2 separate regions of the Homo sapiens genome follow, and region 1 is linked to region 2. The links come from fine-mapping of genetic effects on plasma protein levels. Region 2 holds a variant in brackets. A gene starts in the other region. All regions are shown on their forward strands.

Region 1 (16,803 bases), not on the chromosome of region 2:
ACCACACCAGGGTAATTTTTGTATTTTCTAGTAGACAAGGTTTTGCCATGCTGCTGAGGCTAGTCTCCATCTCTGGCTCAAGCAATCCACCCTCTGCAGCTATTTGATGAGATGTTTCTGACAGTTCCAGGACCTAGGCACAGCAAGAAGTATTATCTTTGATAAATAATATTTAAAGGTAACTTTTTCACTATACTGTCTTTCAAAATTCTGTAACAAGAATGATCAGGTATGTCTCACCTCTTAGCCAGCTGAGGGGAAGCTTGATCTTGGTTCTAGCTGTAGGTTAGTTCTGTAAAATCAACAGCACAACCATTACTCCTGCTACATAAAATGGGCCATGATCAAATCCAGTACACCAAACATTCTGAGAATAACTGTCAGTGAATGCCCAATACCTGAATTACACCCGGGGTATGTCTTAGGCACACTGTATTCTCCAAAAATGACTGAAACGTTATCTCCCATTCCTCAAGCTATTCTGCAATGTGAGGCTGCCACTTCTCCATCAAGGTGTGAGGCCTATTTCTGCACCCGCTTCAATCTGACAGTTTTGACGAACAAGTGGAGAGTAACTGTGCAACAGTCCCAGGCTTAGGCCATAAAACTAGCCTGTCAATCTCTGCTTTCAATTTGCATGGAAACTTTTATTCTTAGACCAACAAATCCAGTTAATTAATTTTTAACCGACTATCTTTTTTTCTTCAACTTTTAAGGTCTGTACATGCGCAGGATGTGCGGGTTTGTTAACGCAGGTAAATGTGTGTCATGGTGATTTACTGCACAGTACCTCCTATCGCCTAGGTATCAAGCCCAGCATGCATTAGCTATTATTCCTGATACCCCACCTCCAACAGGCCCCAGTGTGTGTTTTTCCCCTCCCTGTGTCCATGTGTTCTCATTATTCAACTCCCACTTATAAGTGAGAACGTGCAGTATTTGGTTTTCTGTTCCTGCATTGGTTTGCTGGGGATAATGGCTTCTGGCTCCATCGATGTCCCTGCAGAGGACATGATCTCATTCTTTTTTATGGCTGCATAGTATTCCATGGTGTACACATGCCACATTTTCTTTATCCAGTATATCATTGATGGGCATTTATATCATTTTCTTTATCCAGTATATCATTGATGCACATTCATGTCTTTGCTATTGTGAATAGTGCTGCAATAAACATACATGTGCATGTTTCTTTATAATAGAATGCTTTATATTCTTTATATTCTTTTTTTTTTTTTGAGACAGAGTCTTACGCTGTCATCAGGCAGGGGTGCAGTGCCATGATTTCCACTCACTACAACCTCTGCCTCCCGGGTTCAAGGGATTCTCCTGCCTTAGCCTCCCAAGTAGCTAGGACTGCAGGTGCACACCACCACAACAGTTTTTTTTTTTGTTTTTGTTTTTTGTTTTTGTTTTTTTTTGCTAGAGATGGGGTTTCAACATGTTGGCCAGGATGGTCTCGATCTCTTGACCTCGTGATCTGCTACATTCCTTTGGATATATACCCAGTAATGGGATTGCTGGGTCAAGTGGTATTTCTGCCTCTAGGTCTTTGAGGAATTGCCACACTGTCTTCCACAATGGTTAACTAATTTATACTCCCACCAACAGTGTAAAAGCATTCCTTTTTATCTGCAGCCTCACCAACATCTGTTGTTTTTTTGACTTTTTAATAATAGTAATTGTGACGTGTGAGATGGTATCTCATTGTGGTTTTGATTTGCATTTCTGTAATGATCAGTGGGGATGTTGAGCTTTTTTTCACGTATTTGCTGGCCACATGTATGTCTTCTTTTCTAAAGTGTCTAATTATGTTCTTTCCCCACTTTTTAATGGGGCTGTTGGTTTTTGTTTTTTTCTTGTAAATTTGTTTAAGTTTCTTATAGACTCTGGATATTAGACCTTTGTCAGATGGATAGATTGCAAACATTTTTTCCCATTCTGTGGGTTGTCTATTCACTCGGATGATAGATTCTTTTGCTGTGCAGAAGCTCTTTAGTTTAATTAGATCCCATTTCTGACTGAGCATTTTAAATCCTGAGCTACCATATAGGAAGTCCAGCCTATTCTGCAGGACAGAGTGATCATGTGGAGAAGCACTGTGGCATATCGGATGTGCAGCTCAGTCAAGTTTTGGGATGACTCTTGCACCCCATCTCTGACTGTGCCATTTGAGAAATCACAAGTGAGAATCATGCAGCTGAGCCAAGTCAACACACAGAACCTTGAGAGAAAACAGTGAATTTGTATTTCAAACTACGAAAAGTTTTAAGGTGGTATGTTTATAGCAACAGATAACTGGAACAGGAACTGACAAGCATAGAGAAAATCTGGGTTGGTGAGAATTAAGGAATTCATGAAAAAAGAGATAAAATAAAATGATAACACAATGCAGATAAACATGGAATTAAAAATAAGCTAAGACGATATACACCCTAATTTGGTAAGAAAATATTAATACATGTTCGATACAATGAATAGCTAGCTGGTAAAAGTCCTCAAGTTCTGTATCCTGAGAAGAAGATTCTTGGTCTTGAAAAACAAAACAGCAACCTCTGAAAAAGACTATTATGAGGGTAAGAGATATTTTCCTCTTGAGGTCACACAACAAAGTTTTGCAGCCACTTCCAGCAATGTCACCATGTCCTGAAGGAAAGGGCTAGCATCATTATAATTATATTTTAACTACATCCTCTGAGTTACATTTTAAGGTGGAGTAAGACATCTCTCTAATATAAAAATAAAAGCAAATTATATTGACATGTCTTCTCTTTGCTTGTAATAGAGGAATGGGTAAACAAAAAGCCCAGAGGAATGAACACAGCTAACTTCATGCTCTGCTGTGACCCTCCATGATTCTGCATCTGGCTGAAATTTTTATGGCTTCTGTTGAAATTCCCAAATGCTGACAGAAAAAATAATAACTAAAAATAAAATTAATTTGAGGGTAAAGGAGAAAGTTGGTTGTAAGTGATGCTTTAGAAAAGGTGACCTTTTTGAGCTTAGGATGATTATTGATACTCATGAATGAACACGTTTAAAATGAAAACATTCCTTCTGCTAAAAACAGGGCAAGACTCCCAGCACACTCATTCTGGACTCTTATTTTGGATATCAGTGGGAAGTAAATACTTCTATGAAATGCCTAAAGCCTTGACCAATCTAAGCATCTGTATGGTAAAGAAGAGATTACTCAACATGGACCCCTCTGTTCTATTCACAACACTTCAAAGACTTCCCCACTGATCCAGGAGGGGAAATACTGTATATTTGTAATGTATGTAAATTAGAAGATAGAGAGTTATTTTGGCAAGTTAGAACATACAGAAAAGTATATTGTATATGTAAAACAGAAACTTATTTTAGTTAGAACATATGGAAAAGTGTATTGTGTGAGTCTGTCTAAAATGATGACAGAGAAATGTGTTACCTTAATAGAGTCAAGAATAAATTGGGGACCATGATAGCAGGGGAAAAAGGACTTCCTAGAATACTAAGTTTAAAAAAAAATGTATACCAAAGCAATTAATCCCAGAGCACAAGTACAGAAAAGATGGGTCCTAGAAATAGATGAGAAAATAAAACAAACAAACAAAAAAGCCTTATTCCTGGGTGAGAGTCTAATAGCTGGAACTGATAGTATAGGTTCCTAGTTAGCTAGCATTTTATATGATTGTTCACACTCAAGTGATCGATAAGAAATGAAAAACCCACGACAGGATGAAGCATGTTCCATGGAGTACTTCCTTCCAGATTCTCTTTGAGGAGCAACTCTGTGTGTCAGTCTGACCCAGCAAAGTCAGGCTAGGTGCATCATTGGTGGAGGTGTCCATTTTTGAACCAGGAACGAGGAACCAGAAAAAAGTTCAAGTGTCCATTTCTTTCCCTTCTCAGTTGTTTCCCATTTTTCTTTGTTTTGTTTTGTTTTCCAGTTAAATAGAGATGGTGTGAAGATACATATTTTTTTTACAGACTCCTGGTTTTAACTTCAGTTATTGGTTCCTTAGAAATGCCATGGCAAAACTCTCTATTATACAATAACCTTTAGGAAACTTATATTGAGTTTTTGAAGTTCAATTTCAACACAGAGGGCAAGTTTTAAGAGGGTAGAAGTAAAAATCTCTACTGCATGGAACTTAGGCAAAGGATCATTCTCCTAATTTTTTTTCCCCAGAATTTCTTCTCTGCAACCTTCTAGCCAGAATAGGCTCTCATTTTTTTTTGCTTTTGTCAATTGTAGGTTCTAAATTTAAAACTCAAGTTGAATTTTTTTATGTAGCTTTGAATTCATTTTAGCTTTGAGAGCAGTATATTTAGCTACTGCCAGTTCACCCCTTGGTAGGACTAGTAGCTAAGCCAGTTTTTTTCTCTTAAAACTCTATAAATTTTCTTATCCTAGAACACAGGTTTTTCTAGATCATAATTAATTTTCCATCACTCAAATGAAAGGGAAATCTTTTTCATGCACACTGAAATTTATTTGAAACTAAGAAAAATGCATTTGAGGAATATCTGAAATTATTTATAAAATTATAGCAATAAAAAAATGAACATTTCCTAAGGCACATATCAAGTGTTTGCTCTATAACTGGATCATTCAAAATATAAAGTTAATGTTATGAAACAGTGTAACAGCTTAAAACACTGCATTATATACACATTATTATAGAAATTCCTGAATTATTTATTGCTTCAATAGCATATCCAAAGTTGAAAATGAGCATTTTTTGTGGATTTCACTTGTCTTCCATTTAGAAAGCTCTATATTTCCATTCAGTCTCAGAGTTGGCTGAACACTCTTTGTTGCCTTCTTTCCTTCCTTGACTTCCATTCCCTTGTTAGCTCCTTTCTATATCACCCAAATCCTTTTTTTTTTTTTTTTTGGACTTTGCTGAAATTCTGGTCATGGATACTGTGCTCCTTATTTTCAGTTGGAGAAACTGAGGCACAGAAAAGTTCAAATTAGTTGTTTAATCAACTTGCCACAGTAAACAGGTGGTAGAGTCAGGATTTGAACTCAAGTCTGTTTGCCTCCAAAGCTACTAGAGTTCTAGAGTTCAATATTTCCACTGTCAATGACAATATTCAAATATTCTAAAATCTATGCTTGAATGGTTGTAAGTCAACAGTGGCCCCACCCAATAGCTCAAACCTAGTCCTGGAAGATGTTCTTAAAAGCAGTTCTGTAAAAGCAGAACTACTGTTTGATCCAGTAATCCCATTACTGGGTATATACCCGGAGGAATATAACACATTCTTCCATAAAGACACATGCACACGGCTGTTCATTGCAGCCCTGTTCACAATGGGAAAGACATGGAATCAACTTAAATGCCTATCAGTGACAGACTGGATAAAGAAAATGTGGTATGTATACACCATGGAATATTATGCAGCTATAAAAATGAAAGAGATCATGTCCTTTGTGGGAACATGGCTGGAGCTGGAGGCCATTATCTTCAGCAAACTAACGCAGGAACAGAAAACCAAATACCACATGTTCTCACTTATAAGTGGGAGCTAAATGATAAGAACTTATGAACACAAAGAAGGAAACAACAGACATTGGGGTCTACTTGAGGGTGAAGGGTGGGAAGAAGGAGAGGAACAGAAAAGATAACTATTGGGTACTGAGCTTAATACCTGGGTGATGTAGTAATATGTACAACAAACCCCAGGGACATGTGTTTATCTATGTAATGAACCTTCACATGTACCTCCAAACCTAAATAAAAATTTTTTTAACAAGAAGACATGAGGTGAGGGAGAGGAGGAAAAGCAGCTCTGGATACTCAAAAGAGGAACAGCAGAATTTAGATATGATAAAAAAAAAAAAAGAGAGAGTTAGCTTGACCTAGAAAAGGCACCATTTTCTCAGGTAGAACTTATGAAATACTGTTTTGTTTGTGTTTTATGTTTTGGTTTTTGTCTATTTGGAGGGTTGAGATAAATTGACAGTTTACACTTAAATCTTATTATATATCATTTGTATATATAATATACAACTGTTAAAGGTGTGTTTCACTGTAGGTAGTTCTTATCACAAAGTATAGGTTAAATAACTCTTACATAATTTCTTATTGATGCTTTAATATATAGTCATAATGTCAATGACCTTTACAGGTATTATAATATTTTTATATTAAGTGGAACCTCTCAAACTATTACAATTATTTTGGTAGCCAGTTTGGGCAAAACAAGAGAGCAGGCAATCGCACTGGAAAGGCTTATTCTAGTATAGGTTTGTTACTTGTTTCATTAAGAAATTGAGTGTCTTAAATTGTCCATCTTATAAAATTTGTCTAAATCCAAACTCACAATATTTTCCTCAAAACCATTTTCTTCTGCATTTTTTCCAATATGAAGAAAAAATCAACTTTACTCTTCCAGTTGCTCAGGTCAAAACCTTGGTGTCATCCTGATTCTTGATTGTTTTCTCACAGGCCACATCTGGTACCTCAGCAAATCCTATTACCATTTTTCCCCAAACTTCTTCAGAATATGACCACGTCTCATCATCCCTTCTGCCGCACTCAGGTTCAAGCCTCCATCATCTCTGGCTGGGATTATTACAAGAGCTTCCTAGCCATTCTCTCTGCCTTTTTCCTACTTCAGTCACTCCTCAATCATGCCTGTGCTTAAAACCTCCAAGGACTTTTCTTCTCACTCATAGCAATGTCAAAAGCATTGCAATGACCTACAGGTCCTATACCATCTGCCATCTAATACCCTTCTGACCTCATTTGTTGCTATTCCCCTTGCTCAGGCCTCCAACCAAAGTGGCCTCTTCTCTGTTCCTGGAACAAGTCACAAGGCTTTTATTTCTGGGGCACTATTTTTCTTATTTCTTCTTCCTGGAATGGTCTTCCCATAGACAGTCATATGGCTGCAGGCTTATCTGAGTCTGTTCATGCTGCTACTACAGAATACCACAGACTGGGTAATTTATAAAAAACAGAAATTTATTTCACACAGTTCTGGAGGCTGGGAATTCCGCAATGAAGAGGCCAGCATGTTCATTGCCTGACGAGGGCTGTCTATCTCTTCTTCCAATTTGGCACCTTGCTACTGCATCTCCAGAGGGGACAAATGCTGTGTCTTCACACTGCAGACAAGCAGAAGGGCAAAAAGGGACTAGCTAGTTTCTTCTTGCCCTTTTATAAGGTCATTAATCCCATTCATACTGGGGTCTGCCTTCATGACTTAATCACCTTCTAAAGAGCCCATCTCTCAATACTGTCACCTTGGGTTTAAGTTCTAACATGGGAATTTTGGAGGGACACGTACATTGAAACCATAACAAGGTCTTTACTCAAAAGTTGCCTTCTCATTGAGGCCTTCCCAGGACTTCCTATCTAAAATTTCAACCCAGTGTCCCCACCCCCAATGCTTGTTACTCCCCAACAATACTTTTTCTCCTTAGACTTAGTATATGTCACTATCTAATCTATTTAACTCATTTATCTTGTTTATTATCTGTCTCCCTTATTGGATTCTAAGCTCCAGGAAGACAGGGATTTTTTTCTGTCTTGTTTTGTTCACTGCAGTTTCGCCAATGCCTGTCACACAGTAGGCACCTAAAACATTTTTGTTAAATGTTGCTGAATTTCACTTAGATAAAATTGACATCATAAACTTTCTACATAAAAGGATAGCAAAAATGTTTTCCATTTCTAAACTTGTTAGGTATTCAGTCAGTCCTAATTAGCAGTTCTGAAATCAATTTTGATTATCTGACAACATGATGTCCAAACTGAGGTATTTATATTTTCTGTTTATCCCACTTTCTGGAACATTTGATAGTAGCTTTCTACCACAAACACATTTTTAGATTAAAATTACTTCACCCCCTATGGTTATCTGTGGGCGCTTGTAACAAATTGTTTGCTAGCGCTGAGTGAGCCAGTGCTGATTGGCCATTGGGAACTCTAACAAACTTTAAATTTCAGCAAAATGCCCAGAGACTTCTAATCCTGCAACAAGAAGCCAGGTATTCTGAAGGTGAAAGATACCAGGTAATTTGGCTTTCATGTTCTTGACAGCAAATAGCTTTATATCATAGTTGTTTACGTTTTTAAGATGCTTGCCACCCAAGTATGGTTTTATTACTTTTGAAAATCTTCTCTACTGAGCAAAACTGTGTAATATTTGGTGCTTTGTTTTATAAAATAGGAAATGCGTTACCATGCTCTAGAAATCATCAACTAAAATTGATGATTTGATAGCAACTTTCTCTTTTTTTTTGTTATTAGCATTATCAAGATCCACAGTAACTCAGACTTCAGTTTTCTTCTATCCCTTCACTTAACAAACTGCAATCAGGAAAATCTGATCTTATTCATACTTTGAAACCTCATCTGTGTTGATATTTCTACTGATGAGCATTAACTCATTTCATAAGTTACTTACGTTGTCCTGATCTATAAAATGCTTGGAAGGGTAAACTATAGTTAGAATTTAGATCCTTCTAATTGCATTAATTTAGAAAAACATAGCCTAGGATTTTAGAATATATTTAATAGTTACAATCATTTCTCCAAATACCAGCTTTTCCTTGAGGTGTTTAAAGATTGCAAGAATATTTAGATTATTTTTTCCCATAAAAACAAGTTTTTCTTCAAGAAATCTCAGAGTGGCATAAATTTATTGTTTTCACAATATAATAATAAGATCAATAGTCCAAAGACATGTTGACTTTTTTCCAATCTAATGGCTACTTAAGTGAGCTCACTAGTTCCTGTTGGTATATTTACCAAAATATAAACAAATACCTTTATTTGTAACTAAATGTTAGTATTTTGAACATCATTTTGTTGAGCCCAATATAAAATATGATTTGCCTTTAAGTCAACTGTACATGGATTTTTCTGTAATAAGATAAAAGAATAGAAAGTTATTTAAGGTGGCAGAGAGTCTTGATGAAGAAAACTGGGTCTAGAGCCACATTGCCTGGATACTAATCCCAGTTCTGCCCCTTAATATTTGTGAATTCTAAAGCAAGTTATTTGATCTTTTTGTGTCTATTTCCTAATCTATACAACAGGCATAGTAACGCCGCCTAACTTGTAGGGTTGTTGTGAGGCTCAAATAATTGAATGCATGCAAAATTCTTAGACCCAGTGCTTGGCTCATTTTAGTATTCAATAAATGTTAGCCATTAATGTCAGTGTTGCAAAAATTAGTTCACTCTCCAGCCCATGGATGGCTACTAATTCAGACACATTGCTAATGAACATGAGACACAGATTAGGGCACCAGCCCGGAGGCAGATAAGCTTTCCTCACAGTGCAATCTGCTACCCTGACAAACTTAGAGTGTGTTATGAGCTGCTACATCAACTTAATGTCATTTTGAATTACACAAATAATTAAACAATCTCTTTCTAAAGACAAGAGGAAGAAGAGCTGATGATAGAGCAAATAAATGTGTCTATAAAATATATTTCTATCAACTGACTTTACTGTTTTAATGATATTGAATAATTTTCATTTTCACATTGGAATAACTAGACATATGAAAGTTCTTAAAATGTCCACACTCGGGTATAAGCAAGTTATACATAGTCTATACACACACATACACAAAAGGATATGAACTGCCAAGGGGAAGGGTGTTTATATATTCCTATGTGTTTTATCTCTTCTTATGGCTGCAGTTTATAACTGGCAATGCTTTGTGGTAAGATATTGTTGTCTTTTTACAGAGATTCTCAAAGATGCGAGTTTTCTGTGTGGGACTACTCCTTTTCAGTGTGACCTGGGCAGCACCAGTAAGTATTTACAAATTCAATTATATTTCAGATAATCTCTTGCTCTCTTCATTTGTTTTTCTTTCAAGCAACGTCTATTTAAATTAGTAGCATCTACCTAATTCAGTTATTTTAAAAAGAACCAAGCAAACAGAAAGCATCTAGCACTTAACACTCTTAACAAAGGAGGTTCTCAATAAACATGTGCTGAATTATGAGATCTGACAACATTGTCTTTTAAGGAACACCAAAAACAGATTTTTTGAGAAAACCAAGAGGCAGCCGCAGCATTTCAAATCAGCTGATACTAATGAGTGATACTCAAAGACTCAAATTATAACATGGTAAAATAATCTTTGACTATTTTCCTGTAAACTTAAAGAATTTGACATGAATGTTTTAAAGCTAACCAGCTAGATTTAGTAAATAGATAAAAATGCAAAGAGACAAGAACTCTTCTGTATTTCTTGCAACACCCCAATACTGTGGGATCCTACTTGTGATTTTCTCTTCATCAGCGAGGCTAGAGGTGGGACGTAGTACCTCCAAGCTTAACCCAAATCAAGCTCCTACTTCCTTGTGTGTCTTTTCTTCCCTCTGACTCACCCAGTTGAATATTCAGGATGTGACCAAATTATCTTGTGAAAATGCTGAGTGTTAGTTATTTTCTGCAATGCAGACACAGTGCTAATTAGATAATGTCTGAGCAGCATCCTAACTTATCAGAATAACCTTTTTGGTTGGAGAACCATGGAAACAAATAGTCATCCCATTGCCAATCATACTTATATATAGGTCCTGAGTGAGTGGGTGACTGCTAGGGTAACCAGGCTGATGAGGATGACCAGGGAAGCAGAGGGCCTCATGGAGGGCAGTGGAAGTTGGGGAAATGTGTTCCCTTCTCCGCACACACTCTGTGCAACAAGGGTGTGCAGTACAGTACTGTGGAGGCTGTACTGCTCACAACACACATTTGCGAGACCCCATGCACAGACCTCACTCAATCAAGGCCTAGAGGCTCAGGTGCCTCTCCCACCTCTCACGGTGGAAAAATGAGTCTTGCTGACCTAGCTCAAGTTGGCCAGCTGAAGATTTTATTTTGAGCAACATGTTCCAAGAAGCAGCTGGAGTGGGGCTTTCTCATCATTTTCCAGTAAATGTGCTATGTCAACATTGATTCAGTGACCACTGATCAGAAGAGGATGCCAGCTTTCCTGCCCAGAGGCAGACAATGCCATCTCCATTACAGGGCCACATTCAAGCCTAAGACATCTGCTTGGGGGTATAGAGGGGACAAGGGAGGGATGCGTATTTCAAATGAAAGCAGCTCAGCAAGGATGCAGAGGCAACATTTGTAACTGTGAATCATTAAATATGATGTTTTCTTCCAGGTATATAGATGCCATTTTAGTAATTACCTGAATTTTTAAATGATAGATTGGTGGCTTAAGAAATTAGTATATACTCAGCCACTTGCATACGTCTTAGAATTATAAGCCAAATTCTAAATGATTTTTAAAAGGAAGAAAATGAATGTTTATTAGGCTATGCAATTCGGTTAATATTCATCAAGATGCAGTTAGACTAGAAAGACTTTGTTATAAGTCACAATAAATCAAAACTGTACCGAGGTACTCTATATTGTCAAGTATGTTTCTAATCCATATGTGTGTGTGTGTGTGTGTTCTGTAAGAAGATCCCTGACACCCCATACTATCATTTCTTTCTTTTGCTTAATATCTGCCCATCTCATTTTTATGCTTTCTTCTTCCTATAGTCCAATTTCCAGAACTGTTTGCCCTGGTTTTATATTTTTGAAGAGTGATATAATTGTCCAAATTTATATTCACATGATCATATAAGAATCAACATAAGAAATGCAATAAAGGATAAAACTATAAAAGATGCCTTGACGATAATTAATATAAAGTTTAGGAACATTTCCTCTTATTACTAAATGCTTTTTCATATTTAATCATTCAAAAATTTATTATTTTAACCCTGGGACTTTGAGGCAGAAGATTTAAATTAAAATATCTTCTCTACTTCTACTGCAACTACCAACTATGAGTGTAGGCACTTCTGTTTCTTCTACTGCTCATCTTATAAAGGTTACTTTGGGACTCATATGAGATTATAAGTACAAAAGCAGTTTACAAACTATAAAGAGTCCTATAAATAGAAGGTGTTATTGATAAACTATTGTTATTTTCTAGAATGGAATTGAATATTAGGCAGCTATGCCTTGGAGTCCAGCCATGGAGGTGCTTTCTAAACTTCTGAGTTTTATATTTTGAAGATGATTTTATCTGCCAGAGTCCAGTCCAGAAAACAAAATCCACTACAGGGAGCTCAGTAGAGCGACTTTCTAAGGGAAGCTAGCTATAAAGTATAAGGAAGAACAGAAAAGCCAACCAGGGGTGGTGAGACCACCCAAGGATCGAAGCTATTACCAGGCTTAGGGCTGGAAGGAAAAAAAAAGGTGCTGCTCCTAGGCCCCTGGCTGGGGGAACTAGGACCACAAAGGAGATGTACCCAACTCTAGAGATGCAGCCCCAAACACGGAGAGTAGAGAAGGACATACCCTGGCTTCTCTCTCCTTCCCCCCCTCCAGACTCATGCCAGGCCTCCTTCACCCAAACCCAGTCTGAACACAGAGGGCAAATGAGCTTGGGAAATGAAGGAATCAGTTCAGATTGAGCTGGAGATACAAAGGAGCTGAGAGCAAGCAGGGGCATTCCCAATATCTTAGTGCAAGCAACAACCTGTCTGTATTAAACAAAATATAGAAGCTTAAGGCTTCTTCAGGAAGAACACTTTCCAGGTAAATAGGACAGCTGGCCTAGGCGGCCCTCTTTCTGTTTATCTCTTTATTCAATCTTTCCCTTAAGGGGTTCTCTCTTTTATATGATTGATCCACCATGATGCCTGCTTCCACTGTAGCACACCCATTCAAACACGGCCCAGTCCGCCCATTGGTTCCCAGTGCCACATCTGAGATAGGCTAGGAGTTTCTGAAAGAAAGAGGTAAATGAAAAATACTGAGAATTAAAGAACTTACATCTATTCCTTTAATAAAACAGTTGCTCTCAGATTTTAGGGTCCCTGTTCTGTGTGCTTTCCTGTGGTATGCAAACTTCAGCCCAAAGGACTGGGACAAACTGCCGAGGTCTGTTCTTTCTTCATTTCTGCCCTTTCTGCGCTTCAATAGCTACCCCTCACCCTACGCTACCCTCAAGAAATTTTGACACTTTATGTCAAACCAAGAAACAGAATTTATCCTAATCTGCTGGCCACCTCCATTTTTCCTTCTCAGAATGTAACATCTGGCAGCAATAAGTTTTTGTCCTTAATTGCGATCCTACCATTCACATGAACGGCTATGGTTTGACTCTCCCTGGGCCATCAGCAGCATCATATCTTAATTCAATATTACAGTTACTCAACTTATATAATTAATGCACACACACAATTTAAATCGTCAAACTCTGATTTTAGTTCACTTATATTTAACAACTCCCAGTTTGCCAGTGAAAACTTCTTTTTCAGTGGATTCTGATGGCAGCCAAGCTCCTTCGTCTGGGGTGCCATCCCTCCCTACTCCCCCACCACACCCACTTAGCGGTTGTCTGAGCTTGAATCCAGTTCTGTAGTGGAGACGGCACTGTCTCCCTCTGGGGGCAGAAAGCTGGCACTGTCTTTCGTAATATTGAAACAAATATTATATTAATGCGATGAGTGTGTCAATCTTCTTTTGGTTAGAATGATTTTCCACAGTGAATAATACAACTCAGTGAGAGAAAAATAAATGAAACATTTGTTTGAAGAAGTTAATGAAATAGAATGTTCTAGTGGGTGAAGTTTTGTTTCTTGTTTCCTTTCAGACATTTCAACCACAGACTGAGAAAACTAAGCAAAGCTGTGTGGAAGAGCAGAGGGTAAACAGAATTCATCTTTTCAAATAACTCTATTTCAGCTCTATAAAGAAAAAGTCAGTAAGAGAAAAGTGTAACTGTCAAAATAGTCTTGGGCACTTTGAATGGAAGTGAAAAAATATACAACATAATGTTGGCACTTTCTAGTCAATCAGGTATTGTAACTCACACACCATGTGTGACAGAAAAGAGGAAAACATTGTGAATAGAGATTTATTTCTCCCCAGTATGATTTCTTCCTTCAAATGAAACAATGCTTTGCCAGGCAACCTTCATGGGGCTAAGTGAGTAAGAATTTGGGAACATTGCTACTAGCAAACAATATTTTCCCACACATGTACCTGACAAACACTTTGCTCTCAGAATGATAAATAAGGGAGTAAAGGGGAAGGTGGCTATCAGATCTGAATGGGGAATTCTATGTCCGTGGAGTCAGCTTTCCATATGCATCCAGTTAAATGAATCCTCCCCGCTTTGCATGCCACCAAATTGCAGCTTGCTTCTGCCTATCACAGAAAATTATGTTCTAAGAACTAACAATCTTCTGTACTTCATCTCAGCTGAAAATTACAAAGGCCAACGTTGCCAGCTTAAGAGCCTGAATGTTCATGCTGTGAGTTTTGCCAATTAGACATCAGACATGAATATTGTAAATCCTGTCTTTCTCCTGGTCCTCTCACCCCCTCCCACCTGAAAATATTTCCACATGCTCCATTTCCATAGACGTTTGGTAATAAAATCGATCCACCCTAGGACAGAAAGCAGTTGACAGGCCCTTAGGGAAAACAGATTTAGAGTTATGTAGAAAAGAGAAGGAACAAGTTGCTGTCTTCGGGAGCCGGCTGACACACACCCTCCTGTGGTTATAAGAAGTACTACCATTTGTCAGAGGTAGAATTCAACTTCACCCAACTTTTAAAGTTTCTTATATTATTACAAAGAGCCCAAAAACTTCTTTGTAAGAGATAAAACGTGCCTCAATATAATGTTGTGTTTTTGTAGATAACATACAAGGGTCACTATGAGAAACATGGGCATTATGTTTTTAAGTGTGTTTACATGTCACCTGAGAAGAAAAATCAAACTGATGTAAAGGTAAGCTGAATCTCTGAATGACCATTCTCAGCATGACTAAACTCTGGACTAGCCCTAGAGGAAAATGTAGGGGAGGCAAAGTTTACTTTTGCTTGCTCTGGGGTTTCTGTCTTATGGCTGGCACTTTTGTCCCTTCCCTCCCTCCCCAGGCTCCTCAAGCCTCTCTACTACAAAACTCTGGGTCCCAGAATCTTCCTGATCCCCATCCCATGCCTCGGCCCACATCTCGCTCTGCTTCAGGACCTGTGGCTGCAGGTGTGATACTCATGGACCTCAGGTGCCCATGGACTGCTGTGTTACTGCTTCTGAGTAACATTTGGTGTTTTATAAGAAAGTTTTCTTGACATATTCTACCATATGCTCTGATGGTGGGGATCTCAGCAGGGGACGGCTAAGAGGAAAAACCATTTTGGCCTAATGAGTGACACATTTTACTGTCTCTTAAATTCATTCTATGGATAACTCCATCTGTGTTGGGTTGCTCAGAAGTAAAAGAATGAGGCCCTTGTCACTACAATGACAATAATTCTTTTCACTCAGTCCCTTCTTGTAGATTCATCGGCCAAAGGGCTGGAAATAGCTTGAAATGCCATCAGCAAAAGGGCTATTTACTTTTTCCAAATCTGGTTTTATTTCCCATGGAAGTAATAGTTTCCCTTCAGAATGTTATTTTCTTCTGCCATCGATATCCTTTAGATGACATCTCTAAGACTACACCTAACTATAAATAAGTTAAAACATATCCATTTGCCAAATATATGTGGAGTTCTTAACTGGTGTGTAAGATACTATGTGAGATAAAATGATGGAGAAAACAAATTCTTTCTCTCCAGGATCTTAGAGTTAGAAAAGAAACAAAAGGCACTTACAAAAATTATTGTAAAACAAGACAGAATGTGGGAGGTGCTATGTGAGTAGTACCGAGAAGAAAAAAAAGATCATGCTTTAAGGGCTTGGAGTAGAAAGAAATTAGTTCCTGGCCTCTGGTGTTCATAATGGAAATAATTGTGTGGGGCCATGGAGGATGAGTAGGATTTGAGCAAACAGAAGTGAATGGGTGAGGCCGTTCTCCATGAAAAAACTCATAGGAACCAAAGCATGGAGACAGAAAAGCAGAGCACAGAAAAGCAGCCAGCCAACTGGTACATAAACCATCGAACAGTCAGAAATCATTTAACACAAGCAAATGTAAGAAAAGTTTTTTTCTATTTTTTGATATTTTCTTCAATGCAAAGATAGCCATCATATACCACAGGATAAAAGTTGTTTCATGTTTTCATTTATAAAATTATTCTACTCAGTCTTCTAATAAAATGCACACAATTCATTAGTGTACATGTTACTTTTTTAAAAGCAGAGAAGCACCGAAAATAAAACATAACTTCCCACTTCAGACAAGGGAGAGAAAAAATTAGGAAGAGATTATTATAATCTACTGAGTTTAGATTTAGTGTTTAACTCAAAAGGTTATCTTAGTAATGAGTAAACAAACAACAATGAACTTGATTGCAAAGGAAAACATAAATGTCCAAGTAAAACTTTCCAGGACTCAATTACTCAAGTCAAATATTTAAAATACTTTTTATTTAGTGATATACTACAAAGTTTATTTCTATTTTTTTCTTATGGCAAAATCGTATTTCAGAATATACCCACCAATATTAAAAAATTAATGAACAATAATGCCATAACTTTTACAAATAAGTAATTTCAAATTATATTTTACAAATATTATACATTGGCACTTTTGCAGACCATATATTAGCTAGCTTCTTAAAAGTAGAGGGCACTTCTAAAAGCCATTTTTATTTTAGATTCAAATGTGAGCTGATTCAACATTTCCGCCTACTTCCAACAGTTAATAAGATACATATATAAAAGCAGACAGTCCTCCAAGCAGAACAGTACTTCTGTTTGGGAGTGAAAAAAAAGAGAGAGTCCAATCAAAATCTATTTCAGATAACATCCCATCGACGGCTACAAGCTTACAGAACACACAGCCCGAGGATGACACTTGGGCAATTC
Region 2 (8,000 bases):
GTGTGAGGATGTTTCCTTTCCTGCTGGGAAGTCCTCCAAGCTCTTGTGAAAGAGATGTGGTTTGTCGAGCATGGATTTTCAAACTTTCTTTATAGAGAGCTGTTGTTAGCTTAAAAATGCCTGGAAACATGATCAAGTGTAATGTTTTAATGATAACATAGAAGCACATAGTACTAAGCACATGTAATGAGAATGTACAGAACTCTCTAGTAAGAGTCTGAAATTTGGCCGGGTGCAGTGGCTCATGCCTGTAATCCCAGCACTTTGGGAGGCCGAGGCGGGTGGATCACCTGAGGTCAGGAGTTCAAGACCAGCCTGGCCAACGTGGCAAAACCCCGTCTCTGCCCAAAATACAAAAATTAGCCGGGCGTGGTGACGGGTGCCTGTAATCCCAGCTACTCAGGAGGCTAAGACAGGAGAATTGCTTGAACCTTGGAGGTGGAGGTTGCAGTGGGCTGAGATCGCACCGTTGCATTCCAGCCTGGGCAACAGAGTGAGACAATGTCTCAAAAAATAAAAAAGAGAGAGTCTGAAATTCATTCTTTCAACATGCTTGTGTTGGGTGCTGCCTGGCACAGCAATTGGTGCCCACTAACTCACAGCGTCGGGGAAGATAGGCACGGAACAAGTCATCTGGTGTGGTCCCTGCAGTGGGGGAGCCCAGTGAGGGCCTGTCCAGCCCAGCTGAGAGGAGACTGAGAGAAGGCTAGGTGGCATAAGTAAAGATATGGATAGCGCTTTCCTCTTCAGAGTGTTTATTACCAGGGTTAGATAAAGCAGATCTCATGTATTTTCTGCTACTAAGTAGAAGTTCTTGTTTTGTTTGATTTCTGGTGGGCTTTGATATTTTCCAAAAAGATAATAACTCATTGTAGAGTAAGATCAGGACTGGGGCCAGCAGACTTGGGTCCAAAGGTGTGTCATTTTTATACCAGACTAGAATCGGGTGAGGGGAGATGTAAAGAGATCACTATTGTCACGGAAGGCGCTGGAAGGAGCTCTGCTTAGAAAAAATGCCTTTCTCTAGGAGGTTTTCATCCAGCATGGGAACACAAAACACCAGTTTAAAATAGCTAGGTAAGGCTTCACAGTCTCTCAATGTGATGTGGGTGTCCTGAGTCGTGAACATCCCATTGTGCAGGATAAAATGCTGGTTTCTGAGCTGTCTTTCAAGACACAACCCAAATGCTGTCTTTGCCATGGTGCCTTCCTTGGGAACCCAAGCCAGGTGAGGTCTGCCTTTTCTCTGATGTTGCCTAACTTTTCCTCTTTGTGTCCCTTGAGCTCAGGGACATGCATCCCCTGTTGTACCTAGCACAGAATCATGCACAAGCAGGTGCTTGTTAACTGTTGGTGTGTACCAACAAACATTTACGGAGCACCTATTAGCAGGAGCACAGGCCAAGGAGCTGGATAGATGAGCGTGGAGTTTGGGGGAGAGGTCTGAGCTGAGATATACATTTGTGAGTCATCATTGTATGGATGAGGCCGGGCTGGGGAGGATATGAGCGTAGAATGAGAAGGTCCAGACCTGCACCTGAAGAACAGCCCCATTTAGGGAATGCAGGGAGAGACAGAGGAAAAGCAAGATGGTGCACAGTGACATTGAAGGTGAGTGACGAGACCCTGCAGCAAGAGGAAAGGAGCAGCAGTGCTAGATGTTGCAGAGAACCCAGAATGGTAAGGCCTGAAAACCATGTGTTTTAGATTCTGTAACCTGGAGGCCACTAGGTGACCTTAGCAAGGGCAGTCATGATGGAGTGTTGGGGCTGAAGCCCATTGCAGGGAGGCCCATAGTCAATGGGAGGTGGGCAGTAGACACAGAGAGCTGGGTTATTCTTGCCACACAGCTGTGCTGGGGCCATGGCGGGGGTGGGGGTGCCACAGAGTGGGAGCCAGAGAGGGACCTGGGTAAGGGCTGACCGTGGGTGGGGAGCGCATGGAGTGCTTTCAGAGGCCAAGTGAGTGGAACTGTCTATGAAGCAGATGGATGGAACCCTGGCTGAATTATCTCAGACTTGCCAAAGACATTCATAAAATTCAGACCCGCACACACTCGGGAATGGGAAAAATGAATTATTTTGTAAGAAGCTTATAGTCCAAAGGTAGAATTGCCCAAGAGAGCTTCTGAAAGGAAAAAGTCATAGCAAGTTGATATTTTTAAAGTGAAATAACATAGGTTGGATTTTTCTAGTAACTTCAAGGGGTAAAGACTTTGAATTTTTTTTTTGGAGACAGAGTCTCGCTTTGTCACCCAAGCTGGAGTGCAGTGGTGCGATCACAGCTCACTGCAGCCTTGACCTCCCAGGCTCAAGCAATCCTCCTGCCTCAGCCCCTCAGGTAGCTGGGATTATAGGCACACGCTACCACGCCTGGCTATTTTTTGTATATTTTGTGGAGGTGGGGTTTCACCGTGTTGCCCAGGCTGGTCTCAAACTCCTGAGCTCAAGCGATCTGCCCACCTTGGCCTCCCAAAGTGCTGGGATTAAAGGCGTGAGCCACTGTCCCTGGCCAAGACTCTGGGTTTAGTAAGCCTCTTGCAACTCACTAGGAGTGGATTTCTAGGACCTCCCCACTTTCTTGCTTGTTGTTTCTTTTGCTAGCCGTAAGTCCCTGGAGTACACTGGGTACTTTATGGGAAAAAGAGGAACAGTGTGGGACAGACTTTGCCCTGGGCTGCTTAACGTGATGTGGGGAACAGAGGTGATAAGAGCCTGTGGCAGCTCAGGCAGCCCTGCCATGACCTGGAGTTGGGGAGGGGTATCAAGGATAACAAGTCTTATACACATGCCATGCTGTTTCTTTGGATCAATAGATGGATAATTTTTAAAACCCCCTGTATGTATCAAACTCACTTTGGAGATGTAAGGCATGGCCTCTGTCCTGGTGACAGTATCTGAGTGGGAGGCCTGGTAAAATGTCTGTGTTTAGGATGATGAACGCCATAATCTAAGACTGCTAAGTGCTGTGGGGTGGTCTAGAAGGGCAGATGGGCTAGCTGCGAGGAGGGCAGAGGCACTGTGCAATGGTGTTGCCTGGGAACACTCCGTGGAGAGTGTGGGAATCTCACCCTGGCCCTACCAGGTAAGAAATTGGGCCTGGGAAATTGGGAAGGGAATTTTTCAAGCTTCATGGCTGCTCCAGGACTTGAACTAAGACTTTCCTTTAGAGCAAGCTTGTCCACCCTCTGGCCCGTGGGCCGCATGTAGCCCAGGAGAGCTTTGAATGCAGCCCAACACAAATTCATAAACTTTCTGAAAACATTGTAAGATTTTTTTTTTGCGATTATTTTTTAGCTCATCAGCTATCGTTAGTTAGCGTATTTTATGTGTGGCCCAAGATGACGACTCTTCCATCGTGGCCCAGGGAAGCCAAAACACCGGACACCCCTGCTTAGAGAAAGTGCGTTTTCTGTTATAAAAGGACCTTGAATCCCCATCTCATATGTTGGGACTTTGTCTTGCATGTTTTCAGGCAGGGCATGATTGTATCTGTAACATAATAATATGTAAGAATGTGTACTTCTTAGCCTTTGCAGAGAGGCGGGAGGCCTGTTTCCTGCAGCCCCCGCCCTGTCCTGGCTGAGGGGTGGGAGGCAGCTTGCTGGCCAGCCCCGCTGAGTCACCCTCCGGCGTGGAGCCCAGTGGGGATTTCCACGCGGCCCCAGTGTTCTCTTCTCCTCGTTTCCTGTTGGGCTGTGACGCAGGCTGGCTGCCAGCGGGTGCCGGTGGGCACTCCTGACACAGGCCACTGCCAGCCGGCCTTGTGGGTCCTGAGGGCATCGTGGGTGGCTCTCCCCCCACGAGTGACTGTGCCTGGCAGGGTGTGCCCCACATGTCAGTTGCACTCCGTTCTGGGTGGGCAGCTCCCAGAGGCCCCGGGGAGGGCTGCAGATGGGCGGGGGGTGGCTGCCTGGGAGGACGGGAGGTTTTGTTGAAGAGAGAGCTTGCTCTTGGGGCAGTTTGTACTGGGCGTTTAGGGTTATAAAAACCTAGATTTGCTGAAAACGGCTCTCTTTTATCTTCTGACAAGAACATTTGTGAAGAAAACAAAACAGACCTTCAGCCATTTAGTCTATACACCGAGAGAATGGTTTCTACAGTATGCCTGATTTCTCTGGGTCTTTCTAACACATCCATGTATGTGCTTGTCAGCTTCTAGTGCCTCCATTTCTTGATATGAGGAAATTTTGCTTAAAAAAAAATCTCTACTGATAGGACCTCTGCATATTCATGCATGTTTTTCCTCCAGAACTTTGTGTCCCACCACTGTGCTAGGCAGTTTACAAATGCCATCTGATTTCATTCCTGCCACTACAGTCTAAGGCTATATTGTCCGATACCTATCCACCACCCTCATGTGGCTATTTAAATGTTGGGTCATTAAAATTAAATACAATTACAAATGCTGTCCCTCAGTCACACCAGCCGCATTTCAAGTGCACGGGTAGGCTAGTGGCCATCAGATCAGCTCATATAGAGCAGCACGTTTTCATCACCACCAAAAATTCTATTGGGTAGCACTGGTCTAAGGTCCGGACATATGTCCCCATTTTGTAGATGAGGAAGCTGAGTCCTACAGAGGTTAAGTTGACCACTTAGAAGAATGAACAGATGAAACCTTTTCATTTTACACATGAGGAAACTGAAGGTTATACTCCCCTTTCCTTCTTAGAAAAGAGAAATTGATCTGTAGGCTTCAGGGACTCTTCAGTTAGCCTGGGGGTACTGTGCGGGTCAGCTCTTTTGCTGTTCCCCCCAGACCCTGTCAGCTGTGGGTGGTGGCTGGTTTCTCTTGGTTTCCTCACCAGAGTTTGGGAATGAGCAAGTCAGGACTGCTTTCCGTACGGTAATCCTTTGGCCCATTTCCTATCGGGGGATTTATGGAGCTGGTGATCTCTTGGGTTTTTTGGCCATTTGTTAGAGCCAAAAGAGGTCACAGGAAATGATATACTAGTTTCATTGCCCAAAATACTGAGGTCCAGAGAGG[T/G]GAGGGGATGCTGAGGGTCTTGCATCTAGCTAAGAGCTGAGCTGGCTCTTAAACTTGTTTTCAAGCCAGGACTTACCTGACTTTCTTAGGAAAGTAATCACTCCATAGACAAGGATAGGTTTTTTTCACAGAGCAATGATGTTCCCTGTGGTCCCTATGTAGGGTGGTAAGGAATAGGGCTTTGGGATCCTACAGACCAGGGTTCAAATCCTGGCCCCACCACTTGTAAGTTATGGGACTTCAGACAAGGACTTAAACATTCTAAGTCCTCAGTTTCTTCATCTGTAAAACAGGGATAAAATATCTCAGTGAATTTGTTTTAAATACTTGCGTCCGGGCATGGTGGCTCATGCCTGTAATCCCAGTACTTTGGGAGGCTGAGGTGGGAGGATCGCTTGAGGCCAGAAGTTTGAGACCAGACTGGCCAGCATAACAAGAACATAACAAGATCTCATCTCTACAAAAAATTAAAAATATTAGCTGGGCATGGTGGTGTGAGCCTGTGGTCTCAGCTACTCGGGAGGCTGCAGTGTAAGGTTGCTTGAGCCAGGAGTTAAAGTCTGCAGTGAACTCGCCACTGTACTCTAGCCTGGGCAACAGAGTGAGACCCTGTCTCAAAAAAAAAAAAAAAAAAAAAAATCAGCCAGGCGCAGTGGCTCACACCTGTAATCCCAGCACTTTGGGAGGCCGAGGCGGGTGGATCACCTGAGGTCAGGAGTTTGAGACCAGCCTAGCTAAAACATGGTGAAATTCCGTTTCTACTGAAAATACAAAAAATTAGTCAGGTGTGGTGGCACACGCCCGTAATCCCAGCTACTCGGGAGGCTAAGGCAGGAGAATCGCTTGAACCCAGGAGGAGGAGTTTGCAGTGAGCCAAGATTGTGCCATCGCACTCCAGCTTGGGCAACAAGAGCAAAACTCCGTCTCAAAAAAAAGGAAAAAAGAATTCTAACATGTTTGAGATTGACTGCAATTCCTAGCATATTACAAGTGTTAGTAAATAGTAGCCATTAATATTATGAGCTTATCATCACCTTCAGCCAGCATTCTAATTTTACAGTATAGAATCCAGTACATAGGAGGCACTCAGATAGACGGGATGCCCCAAAATTGGGAGACGGACAAACTTATTTTGAAATAGTCTTTTTTTGACATTTCCAAAGAATATACTCAATGTTTTTCTGCAACCCTTTGCCTTCTTTTTAGGTGAAGGACCTCTACATTTAAAGCAGTGGGTTCAACTGCTAACCTGAAAAGCTATAATAAAACATCCCAGAGTATCCAAAAAGCCTGGAAACAAAGGGAAAATAGTGTGTCCTGCTTTCCAACTTTCGGATATGCTGTAGAATAGACTGAAACAAATCACTGGAAAATAGGTTGTTGTCGATTTTATTTAGAAGCTTTTGTTCCTTTGGATTTTCGTCTCTTATTTTTAGACAGAGTCTCCCTCTGTCACCCAGGCTGGAGTGCCGTGGTGCAATGATAGCTTACTGCAGCCTCAAACTCCTGGGCTCAAATGATCCTCTAGCCTTGACCTCCTGATTAGCTGGGACTACAGAAGCAGGCCACCACGTCTGGCTAATTTTTGTATTTTTCTGTTGAGAAGAGGTCTTGCTATCATGGGCAGGCTGGTCTTGAACTCCTGGCCTCAAGTGATCCTCCCGCCTCAGCTTCCTGAAGTGGTAAGATTACAGGCATATGCCACCACACCCAGCTTTTTTGTTCCTTTGAAAGAAGGCATTGCTAATGATTGCCCTGAGGTGTCTAGATGACCCGGCCAGCCATCCACCTCTGCAGTTTACACAGCTTGTTGATCTCCACAGTGAGAATTAACTTCACAACCTGGGTCCAAGAGGCTGGAGGATTGTCAGTCTTTAGAAAAAAAAAAATCTATTATCTTTAGAGAAGATGGACTTGTTGAGGAAGAAGAGTAGACAAATACTTTCTGGAAATATTTTCAAAGGGAATTAGAAAAAGAAAAAGATTTTGGTTGTCCTTTGGTGAATGAGAATATTCATCAGCAGAATGCCTCATTACCACGTCACACAGCTGACCAAGGCCTCATCTGAGACTGTGTTTGAATAGAAATTAAACAGGGCTGACAGTGAAGTTTCTGCTTTTAATTAGCTTTCAAAGGTACACCTCTACCTGTGATGTTGAAACATCTTGAAAAACCTCTCTGCTCTGTGCCTGAATGAGGGGCATCTAGAGGGCTTGGAAGAGAAGATGTGGCACAGGGCAGCCGGGGAGAGGCTGGTGGCCAGAAGATGGACCTGAGCTTGGTGAATTTACCTGGCATCTGAGCCTGGCCTGAACAATTCAGAAACCTCATTTCATCAGTCTTGGAGTCAGGGCTCCTGTCTCTTAGCAAAAAGCTAAAGCATACATCAAGCATATTTATTGACAAGCGTAACCACTGTGAGGTTATAACCAGGGTGCTCTGTCTGCTTATGGGCACCCCACCCGACCAGCCAAATGGTCAGAGAGCTGGGTGGGTCGGGGAAAGGGAGGGAGGGAGTCATGGGAAGCAGTTGTGTTGAATGGCTACAGGCCCTGGTGGCTGGGTGCATCCCCGTATGCCATCCAGGCCCACCCACTGCTGGGCCGGACCTTCCCCTCTGGACAGTTCTTGCTTGGGCACTGACTGGGTTTGCTGCTGAACCTCCTGGCCTGGCAGCTCTGGTTGCTGATCCACCCGCTTCTTTCTTTATAGAGATTAAGAGCGGCTCCAGTGTGTGTACGGAGAGCCTCTTTGAAGCGCTGTTGCCTTTCTGTGGCTAGATCCACGATCTTCTCTCTGGGATCACCCCATAGGACATTTGCTTTCCACCTTCTCCAGTCCCAGTGAATGCATGGACCTCTGTCCTCATTGTTACTGGCTGAGCCAGATGTCAGTCCTGTGACCTGGCCTCAGGACCACTCTTGTAGCCCACCGTGGGTGGATGAAGCCGGTGGGAACAGAATGATAGGAGTTAACCACTTTTTAGGCGTTATTGGGCCTTTTCACTTTA

Which allele goes with the higher level. Positions count from the first base shown, and alleles are read on the strand shown. Strength reflects both the effect of a copy and how common the allele is.
For the plasma level of the protein whose gene starts at base 7,970 in region 1, T is the low allele of the variant in region 2 and G is the other (weak association).

The links. A credible set is the group of variants that fine-mapping cannot tell apart. PIP is the posterior inclusion probability: the model's chance that the variant is causal. Protein levels are from antibody-based Olink assays in UK Biobank. Linkage for the fine-mapping came from a reference panel and not from the study's own genotypes, which makes the PIPs less certain.
Region 1: MEPE starts here. The variant in region 2 is the best candidate, but not a certain one, in a credible set for the plasma level of the MEPE protein (UK Biobank, PIP 0.90).

The regions. Positions count from the first base shown.
Region 1 is chr4:87,825,000-87,841,802 of GRCh38, forward strand. MEPE (matrix extracellular phosphoglycoprotein) reads left to right here and starts at 7,970. Exons shown (of 4, transcript NM_020203.6): 1 at 7,970-8,015; 2 at 9,704-9,769; 3 at 13,633-13,686. The coding sequence starts at 9,716.
Region 2 is chr15:67,117,584-67,125,583 of GRCh38, forward strand. All of the region lies in intron 1 of SMAD3 (SMAD family member 3), which reads left to right. Among named protein-coding and RNA genes, the nearest start is that of SMAD3-AS1, 25 kb to the right of the region's middle. RefSeq lists enhancers at 2,516-3,373, 3,352-3,791. The variant T/G (reference allele first, on the strand shown) is at 4,990.